2 separate regions of the Homo sapiens genome follow, and region 2 is linked to region 1. Evidence: fine-mapped expression QTL. A gene starts in region 1. The other region holds a variant in brackets. All regions are shown on one strand. Distances are between the middles of the regions. Region 1 holds the start of ZNF660 (zinc finger protein 660). Region 2 has its middle 180 kb from the start of MIR138-1.

Region 1 (5,207 bases):
GACCTTTTTCTGGAGTACTACAGAGCGTGCATTCCTGAAAACCTCTAGGGGTTAGGGACAGGTTGTGAATTTGTCAATTGTGAATACGCACATGGTGGCACTATAAAAAGAATTGAAAGTAAATCCCCTATCCCTAACATCAGGTCATGCTCTGCCCTGATGGGGACCAGTAGAATTTGCCACAGCTGGATACAGGGAAGGTGTTAACGATTACAGCTGGCTCCACAAGCACCTAGTGGTGCTAGTACTTGATCCAGGATAGGACATTTTAGATTTATTATTCACCAAATCATAACAGTCCTCCACTAATATATGCACAGGGTCACTTTACCCAGGTGGATGCCAAGTAGGGTGAGATGCAGACTCCCTTTTAAGGCATGTGAGTGCTTTACATGAAAACACAATAGGAGAGCAATGTATGACGGCCCACCTTTCTGGCCTGTGGGTATTCCTGAAATGATGCCTGGTTAAGACTTGTCAACTGACTAAAATTACAATGTTTTTTCCCCTTAGATGGCCTAGTCCACAAACTTAAAAAGACCTGACCAACTAGACGTTGATTTCATTTACCCAAATGAGTTAGAATTTCTTTGGCAGATAGATGTCATAATAAAGATTGAAATTGCTGAGTATTTAGGCAATTATGACACACAAAAAAACACCCTGATTTCTGAGCAGTGACATTATACTTGACTGAATGAATAGATTTTTGTAGGAAAAAGTATGCTTGTGGATAAGGGCAATAGAAGCTGGATACAGGCAGGCTGGAATCTATTTTTAACATATATTCTAGTGACCCTTACGTTCTCTAAAATTTGAGAATTACTGGACTAGAATATTAAGGAGTAATCATTCCTCCCTGGGACCAGATGTAGGGTTAGCAGCTTGAATCAGAATGAATGGCCCCACCCACCCAAATGAAAGAGTAGGTGAAAGGGAAGACTAAGTAAGTTAAAGATCACAGCTCCCTTAATGTACATGAATATTCGTGTGTGTGTGTGTGTGTGTGTGTGTGTGTGTGTGTGTGACTGAGTTTCACTCTTGTCTTCCAGGCTGGAGTACAATGGCGTGATCTTGGCTCACTTCAATCTCCAGCTCCCGAGTTCAAGCGATTCTCCTGCCTCAGACTCCTGAGTAGCTGGGATTACAGGCGCCTGCCACCATGCCCAGCTAATTTTTGTAATATTTAGTAGAGACGGGGTTTCACCATGTTGGCCAGGCTGGTTTCGAACTCCTGACCTCAGGTGATCCACCCGCCTCAGCCTCCCAAAGTGGTGGGATTACAGGCGTGAGCCACCACACCCAGCCTATTCTTTTTAAGTTTCTTGATGTAGTGGCAGTAGTCTTGTGCTCTTCAGGAGAGTGTCCCGAGTTCTACGTCCCACATCAACTGAGGGTGTGAACTTGTGGAGGACTTTTGTCTGAATCTCTTTTTCAATCTCTATACAATGTGGCGGAGTTGTGCCACCTACATGAGCCAATGGAGAAGAAAGCTCCTGGTATACTTTAAGTACTCAACAATATTAAATACTGAATATTTGTCAATTGACGAAGTACTTCAAAAGCTTGATTCTCAGACTCCTTCTTAGATAAATCATTCCCTAGATTGTCTCATCCTGTCCTGACAACTTCCAAATTTATGTCTTTAGCTGTGATCTCTTCACGGAAGTCCAGACTCCTATTCCAACTGCCTGTTTGGCATTTCATCTTGGATGTTTAATTGGCATCTTTAACACATCCAAAACAAAACTATTAATCCCTCTCCCTAAACCTGTTCCTTTCAAGCTACTCGATTTCTAAAAGACCATCCCATGCTAGTTGCTCAGATCAATAACCATGGAGTCATCAGTAACCAACATTCAATTCATTAGCAAATCATGCAGGCCATGCCTTCAAAATATATGCAGAACCATTTCTCACTACCTGCATCACTTCTAAGCCTGTCCAAGCCACTATCAGTCCTCATCTGGAATATTGTAATGGCCTCTTAATCTCCCTGATTCTACTCTTACCCACCTTCAGACCGTTCTCAACAAGACAGCCAAAGCAAACTAAAAATATAAGTCAAAGAGCAAAATTCATGCAAGGTTTATGTTAGAATGGCTAAGGACAGACAGCAAAGAATTCACAGAATTTATAGTAACAGGCTTCTTGGCTTCTTTCATGTCTCATAGCTAACAAGTCTTTGAATATGTGGTAAGGGAAAAAAAGTTAGATCATGTCGTTCCTCTGTCCCCAAGCCCTCCAGCTGTTATGCAGAGCAAATCCAAAGCCCTTATCATAGTCTACAAGATCCTAAATGTGCACCTCTCCACCCCACTCCTGATTAAAGAATTTTGCTCCTAATGGCCCACTATGGGAATACTCTTTCCCCAGATAGCCACATGCTTCAATTGCCCACTTCCTGTCTCTGCCCTCCCTGTCATCTGTAAAATAGTCCCACCACTATCTCCCTCTCTCCCCTTACTCCCTCTCTCCCCTTACTGCTACGTTCTACATATTTATTTATCATTGTCTCCTTGACTTGAATGTAAACTCAATGGGGCAGAGAGTTCATTTTCTTCACTACTGTATCCGCAGCGCCTGGAACAGTGAGTGACATAGTAGGCACCCAAAACGTCTTTTCATATGCTGCCAATAAACCATAGCTGATCCTGGCTTTGAGGCTGAATGACCCAGATCTGTGGAAGGAAAGATGACCTCTCTGCTCAGCAACCGGAGCTGGGGGTGTAACTTTAGGGAGTCTCAGCCTGAGGCTGGCAGCCTGGCCACCCAGATGCTCGGTCTCTTTCCGCCCTAACCAAGCCCCCTGCCCAGCTTCCACCACTTCCAGGGCCCTCCTCACATTGGCTGAAGTCGCCAAGCCCTTCCATCCAATGATAGGGCAAAGCCCGGAAGGGAGGCAGGGCCAGAGCGTCGGCCGACCGCGCGGGGCTTCTGAGGGGCGGGGGGACTCCAGCCCGCGGGCACAGAGATGTGGAAACCTCACGAAGCCTAGAAGGGCCGGAGGGACAGGCTGGGAGTTAGCTGGGAGTTGCTGACGCAGTTCCTTCTGCGCTTTGTTCAAGATGTGGGTCTGGCGCTTTCGGTGAGGGGTGCTCTACAGTCTGGCGTGGGGGGTCGGGCCGGGTTCTGGGAGCGTGTGGGAGACGCAAGCCAGGAGGCCAGGGCTCCTCTGCGGCTGCCCGCTGCTGAGATGGGCGCGGCAGCCAAGGGGTCGTTGTGGGCCTCCCCTTTCTCTCGTTCAGTGCTGCCCCTTTGTCTTGGGTCCAGTCTCTGACTCCTCGTAGCTGCTCGCTTGGACCAGGCTGGCCGTGGTGACAGCACTGTGTCGTCCCCGCTCCTAGGCAGTGGGCCTTCCGGGTAGTAGCGGTCGAGTCCCGCCTAGGCTCTCAGGACTCCACAGCCCCTGAGTATTTGACTCAAATCACCAGTCCAATATCCCTCCCGTTACCAGTGAGGAACCTGGGGCCCAGAGAAGAGGACGGAGTCTTGCCCAAGGTTACTCATTCATTCATTGATTCATTCAACAAATATTTATTGAGCACTAACCCAGTAGTGTGCTAGGTCCTGGGGTTATGGTTGTGTACAGGACAGAACTAAATTCTAGTAGGGGAGAAATGAAACAAACTTCAAGGGTTAGAAGCAGAGCCTGGGGATCTGGAGGGGGAAACACAAAACATATTTGAGGCTTAGTAATCCTAAGAAATGGGTAAACAGAAAAAAGGAACATTCTTTTTCTAGTGCTCTTTTAAAGACTTGTTTCTTTCTGTCTTCCTAAAGACACTTGACTCAGCAAAGTTCTCCCTCTCATCCCCCTTGTGCAGACTTTCTGTGGAAAGCTGGATTGCAAGGAAGTTCTCCACTGCATTGTATTTTGCAGTTAGATGAGAATATGGAAGCTTTTAGATATCAATGGAGCAGGTGAAAAGGGGAGGCTGTGGTGTGATGGAATTAGGATTTCCTGAAGACACAGAAGGCTTTTTAATCACTCACTAGCTATAGGACCTTGGGCAAGTCGTTCAATCCCTGGGAGCTTCATTCCCTCATCTTTACACTGGAAATGATCCTTCTTACTGCCCACAGTTCTATAGGAAGGGAAGTTACCCAAAGATGGGACACTGCCCTGAGTGTCCACTTGGAATTCAGGGCTCAGAGAACTCAGTCATTTATATCTGTTTACAGTGACTCAAGACCCTCTTAGGAACTTCTTCACTGAACTCAAGGAGGAGATCAGGCAAGATCTGTGCTGTGCAGATCCTTTGGATTGAGGCTGCTGTGCACAGGAATATGGGTGAGTCATTCCATTCTCTCCTGGGCAGGTGAGGCCTAGATTGTGAAGTTAGTCTGGGCACAGGAATCCTGCTTGTGGGCACCAGGGTTGAAAGGGAGCTTCTCTCAGTGGTATTTATCAAACAGGAGAAAAGCACTGAAGTGGGCAGGGGGCCTCTGGACCTTGAGGAGTAGAGTTTTGTTTCAGATGGGAATAAGGGTGATGTAGTAGAACTCAAAATTGGGTGTCATGGGACTTGGATTTGAGTCCCAGCTTTCCTCTAAGTTCCAAGTTTTCCTTCTGTACATTTGGATATAAGACTGGATAGACTGGGAGGTTCCTTCCAGCTCTGACATACTGAGAGTCTCTGAATAGTGGGACCAGGTCAATCTCTTAGGGAATTTAGTCCCTGGGATGACTCTGTTGAGACAGAATTGCCAAGAATGCAAATACACCATTATGGTGTTTCCCAGATAATATGAAGCACAAAAAGGACAAACATGTAGAGGAGGGATGGTAGTAGTGATGTGTGGATTTGGCTCTCAGCATCCCTATGTGCACTCCAGGTGTTAGAATCTTAAACTTGTTTAATTTACCATTTCAAATCAAACAATGCTGACTGAGCCCTCTCTGTGTCAGACACCATGTGGTATCTACAGGCAAATCTCATGGGAACTGCTCTCTGAGGGCATAGAGCTTAATGTATATATTTGAGGATGGACACAGACATACACACAAGCAATTCCAGTATAAGGCAAACTCTATTTTATAGATTTGTTATGGCATTTTTTGGAATACAGAAATTTTTATGTGTCAGATATATCAGCTTTTTCACATGGTGTTAGCCTTTCCCTTGAGGCTTAGGCCTTTCTTCTAATTCTTTTTTTTTCTTGCAATGTTTACATTTCACTTATCCATCCCTTGAATTTATTTT
Region 2 (5,207 bases), 650 kb before region 1:
GTTTAAGTTCTTTGTAGATTCTGGATATTAGTCCTTGGTCAGATGGATAGATTGCAAAAAATTTACTCCCATTCTGTAGGTTGCCTGTTCACACTGATGATAGTTTCTTTTGCTGTGCAGAAGCTCTTTAGTTTAATTAGATCCCATATGTCAATTTTGGCTTTTGTTGCAATTGCTTTTGGTGTTTTAGCCATGAAGTCTTTGCCCAAGCCTATGTCCTGAATAGTACTGCCTAAGTTTTCTTCTAGGGTTGTTATGGTTTTAGGTCTTACATTTAACTCTTTAATCCATCTTGAGTTAATTTTTGTATAAGGTGTAAGGAGAGGGTCCAGTTTCAGTTTTCTGCATATGGCTAGCCAGTTTTCCCAACACCATTTATGAAATAGGGAATCCTTTCCCCATTTCTTGTTTTTGTCAAGTTTGTCAAAGATCAGATGCTTGTAGATGTGTGGCGTTATTTCTGAGGCCTCTGTTCTGTTCCATTGGTCTTATATCTGTTTTGGTACCAGTACCATGCTATTTTGGTTACTGTAGCCTTGTCGTATAGTTTGAAGTCAGGTAGCATGATGCCTCCAGCTTTGTTCTTTTTGCTTAGGATTGTCTTGGCTATATAGGCTCTTTCTTGGTTCCATATGAAATTTATAGTTTTTTCTAATTCTGTGAAGAAAGTCAGTGGTAGCTTGATGGGGATGGCATTGAATCTATAAATTACTTTGAGCATTATGGCCATTTTCACAATATTGATTCTTCCTATCCATGAGCATGGAGTGTTTTTCCATTTGTTTGTGTCCTCTCTTATTTCCTTGGGCAGTGGTTTGTAGTTCTCCTTGAGGAGGTCCTTCACATCGCTTGTAAGTTGTATTCGTAGGTATTTTATTCTCTTTGTAGCAATTGTGAGTGGGAGTTCACTAATGATTTGGCTCTCTGTATGTCTATTACTGGTGTATAGGAAGGCTTGTGAATTTTGCACATTGATTTTGTATCCTGAGACTTTGCTGAAGTTGCTTATCAGCTTGTGGAGATTTGGGGCTGAGACAATGGGATTTTCTAAATATACAATCATGTCATCTGCAAACAGAGACAATTTGACTTCCTCTCTTCCTATTTGAATACGCTTTATTTCTTTCTCTTGCCTGATTGCCCTGGCTAGAACTTCCAATACTATGTTGAATAGGAGTGGTGAGAGAGGGCATCCTTGTCTTGTGCCAGTTTTCAAAGGGAATGCTTCCAGCTTTTGGCCATTCAGTATGATATTGACTTTGGGTTTGTCATAAATAACTCTTATTATTTTGAGATATGTTCCATCAATACCTAGTTTATTGAGAGTTTTCAGCATGAAGCGGTATTGAATTTTGTCAAAGGTCTTTTCTGCATCTATTGAGATAATCATGTGGTTTTTGTCATTGGTTCTGTTTATGTGATGGATTAAATTTATTGATTTGCATATGTTGAACCAGCCCTGCATCCCAGGGATGAAGCCGACTTAATCGTGGTGGATAAGCTTTTTGATGTGCTGCTGGATTTGGTTTGCCAGTATTTTATTGAAGATTTTTGCATCGATGTTCATCAGGGATATTGGCCTGAAATTTTATTTTTTTCTTGTGTCTCTGCCAGGTTTTGGTATCAGGATGATGCTGGCCTCATAAAATGAGTTAGGGAGGATTCCCTCTTTTTCTGTTGTTTTGAATAGTTTCAGAAGGAAAGGTACCAGCTCCTCTTTGTACCTCTGGTAGAATTTGGCTGTGAATTAGTCTGGTCCTGGGCTTTTTTTGATTATTGGGGTATAAATTACTGCCTCAATTTCAGAACTTGTTACTGTTCTATTCAGGGATTCTTCTTCCTGGTTTAGTCTTGGTGGGCAGGACGGGGGGGTGTATATGTTCAGGAATTTATCCATTTATTCTAGATTTTCTAGTTTATTTGCATAAAGGTGTTTATAGTATTATTTGATGGTAGTTTGTACTTTTTTCGGATCAGTGGTGATATCCCTTTTATCATTTTTTATTGTGTCTATTTGATTCTGCTCTCTTTTCTTCTTTATTAATCTGGCTAGCAGTCTACCTAATCTTTTCAAAAAATCAGCTCCTGGATACCTTGATTTTTTAAAGGGCTTTTCATGTCTCTATCTCCTTCAGTTCTGCTCTGATCTTAGTTATTTCTTGTCTTCTGCTAGCTTTTGAATTTGCTTGCTTTCGCTTCTCTAGCTCTTTTAATTGTGATGTTAGGGTGTCAATTTCAGATCTTTCCCACTTTCTCCTGTGGGCATTTAGTACTATAAATTTCCCTCTAAACACTGCTTTAGCTGTGTCCCAGAGATTCTGGTATGTTGTGTCTTTATTCTCATTGGTTTCAAAGAACTTATTTATTTATGCCATGATTTCATTATTTACCCAGTAGTCATTCAGGAGCAGGTTGTTCAGTTTCCATGTAGTTGTGCTGTTTTGAGTGAGTTTCTTAATCCTGAGTTCTAATTTGATTGCACTGTGGTCTGAGAGACGGTTTTTTATTATTTCCATTCTTTTCCATTTGCTGAGGAGTGTTTTACTTCCAATTACATGGGCAATTTTAGAATAAGTGCGACGTGGTGCTGAGAAGAATGTGTATTCCGTTGATCTGGGGTGGAGAGTTCTGTAGATGTCTATTAGGTCTGCTTGGTCCAGAGCTGAGTTCAAGTCCTTGATATCCTTGTTAATTTTCTGTCTTGTTCATCTAACATTGACAGTGGGGTGTTAAAGTCTCCCACTATTATTGTGTGGGAGTCTAAGTCTCCTTGTAGGTCTCTAAGAACTTGCTTTATGAATCTGGGTGCTCCTGTATTGGGTGCATATATATTTAAGATGGTTAGTTCTTCTTGTTGCATTGATCCCTTTACCATTATGTAATGTCCTTCTTTGTCTTTTTTGATTTTTGTTGATTTAAAGTCTGTTTTATCAGAAACTAAGATTGCAATCCCTGCTTTTTTAT[T/A]TTTTCTTTCCATTTGCAAGGTAAATATTCCTCCATCCCTTTATTTTGAGTCTATGTGTGTCTTTGCATATGAGACGGGTATCCTGAATACAGCACACCAATGGGTCTTGATGCTTTATCCAATTTGCCAGTCTGTGTCTTTTAATTGGGACATTTAGCCCGTTTACATTTAAGGTTAATATTATTATGTGTGAATTTGGTCCTGTCATTATGATGCTAGCTGGTTATTTTGCCTATTAGTTGATGCAGTTTCTTCATAATGTCGATGGTCTTCACAATTTGGTATGTTTTTGCAGTGGCTGGTACTGGTTGTTCCTTTCCATGTTTAGTGCTTCCTTCAGGAGCTCCTGTAAGGCAGGCCTGGTTGTGACAAAATCTCTCAGCATTTGCTTGTCTATAAAGGATTTTATTTCTCCTTTGCTTATGAAGCTTAGTTTGGCTGGATATGAAATTCTGGGTTGAAAATTGTTTTCTTTAAGAAAGTTGAATATTGGCCCCCATCCTCTTCTGGCTTATAGGGTTTCTGCAGACAGATCCACTGTTAGTCTGATGGGCTTCCCTTTGTGGGTAACTCAACCTTTTTCTCTGGCTGCCCTTAACATTTTTCTGTCATTTCAACCTTGGTGAATATGACAATTATGTTTCTTGGGGCTGCTCTTCTCGAGGAGTATCTTTGTGGTGTTCTCTGTATTTCCTGAATTTGAATGTTGGCCTGTCTTGCTAGGTTGGGGAATTTCTCCTGGATAATACCCTGAAGAGTGTTTTCCAACTTGGTTCCATTCTCCCTGCCACTTTCAGGTACAACAGTCAAACATAGGTTGGTCTTTTCACATAGTCCTATATTTCTTGGAGGCTTTGTTCATTTCTTTTCATTCTTTTTTCTCTAATCTTGTCTTCATGCTTTATTTCATTAAGTTGATCTTCAATCTCTGGTATTCTTTCTTCTGCTTGATCAATTTGGCTATTGATACTTGTATATGGTTCACAAAGTTCTCATGCTGTCTTTTTCAGCTCCATCAGGTCATTTATGTTCTTCTCTAAACTGGTCATTCTAGTTAGCAATTTCTCTAACCTTTTTTCAAGGTTTTTAGCTTCCTTGCATTGGGTTAGAACATGCCCCTTTAGCTCGGAGGAGTTTGTTATTAACACACCTTCTGAAGCCTACTTCTGTCAATTCATCAAACTCATTCTCTGTCCAGTTTTGTTCCTTTGCTGGTGAGAAGTTGTGATCCTTTGGAGGAAAAGAAGCGTTCTTGTTTGTGGAATTTTCAGCCTTTTTGCACTGGTTTTTCCTCATCTTCGTGGATTTACCTACCTTTGGTCTTTGACATTGGTGTCCTTTGGATGGGGTTTTTGTGTGGATATCCTTTTTGTTGATGTTGATGTTATTCCTTTCAGTTTGTTAGTTTTCCTTCTAACAGTCAGGACCCTCTGCTGCAGGTCTGCTGGAGTTTGCTGGAGGTCCACTCCAGACCCTGTTTGCCTGGGTATCACCAGTGGAGGCTGCAGAACAGCAAAAATTGCTGCCTATTCCTTCCTCTGAATGCTTCATCCCAGAGGGGCACCCACCAGATGCCAGCTGGAGCTCTCCTCCATGAGGTGTCTGTTGACCCCTGCTGGGAGGTATCTCTCAGTCAGGAGGCACGGGGGTCAGAGACCCACTTGAGGAGGCAGTTTGTCCCTTAGCAGAGCTCGAGCGTTGTGCTGGGAGATCCACTGTTCTCTTCAGAGCTGGCAGGTGGGAATTTTTTTTTTTTTATACTTTAAGTTTTAGGGTACATGTGCACAATGTGCAGGTTAGTTACATATGTATACATGTGCCATGCTGGTGTGCTGCACCCATTAACTCTTCATTTAGCATTAGGTATATCTCCTGATGCTATCCCTCCCCCCTCCCCCCAACCCACAACAGTCCCCAGAGTGTGATGTTCCCTTTCCTGTGTCCATGTGTTCTCATTGTTCAATTCCCACCTATGAGTGAGAACATGCAGTGTTTGGTTTTTTGTCCTTGCGATAGTTTACTGAGAATGATGATTTCCAGTTTCATCCATGTCCCTACAAAGGACATGAACTCATCATTTTTTATGGCTGCATAGTATTCCATGGTGTATATGTGCCACATTTTCTTAATCCAGTCTATCATTGATGGACATTTGGGTTGGTTCCAAGTCTTTGCTATTGTGAATAGTGCCACAATAAACATACGTGTGCATGTATCTTTATAGCAGCATGATTTATAATCC

The links. PIP is the estimated chance that this variant, and not a neighbour inherited with it, causes the effect.
Region 2: its variant is fine-mapped to the expression of ZNF660 in ovary (GTEx, PIP 0.99).

What each region holds. Positions count from the first base shown.
Region 1 is chr3:44,581,920-44,587,126 of GRCh38, forward strand. ZNF660 (zinc finger protein 660) reads left to right here and starts at 3,045. Exons shown (of 3, transcript NM_173658.4): 1 at 3,045-3,088; 2 at 4,186-4,294. ZNF660-ZNF197 (ZNF660-ZNF197 readthrough) reads left to right here and starts at 3,045. Exons shown (of 8, transcript NR_147692.2): 1 at 3,045-3,088; 2 at 4,186-4,294. All of the region lies in intron 2 of ZKSCAN7-AS1 (ZKSCAN7 ZNF cluster antisense RNA 1), which reads right to left. It also overlaps a transcript of ZKSCAN7 not described here.
Region 2 is chr3:43,935,307-43,940,513 of GRCh38, forward strand. No RefSeq gene overlaps it. Among named protein-coding and RNA genes, the nearest start is that of MIR138-1, 180 kb to the right of the region's middle. The variant T/A (reference allele first, on the strand shown) is at 2,965.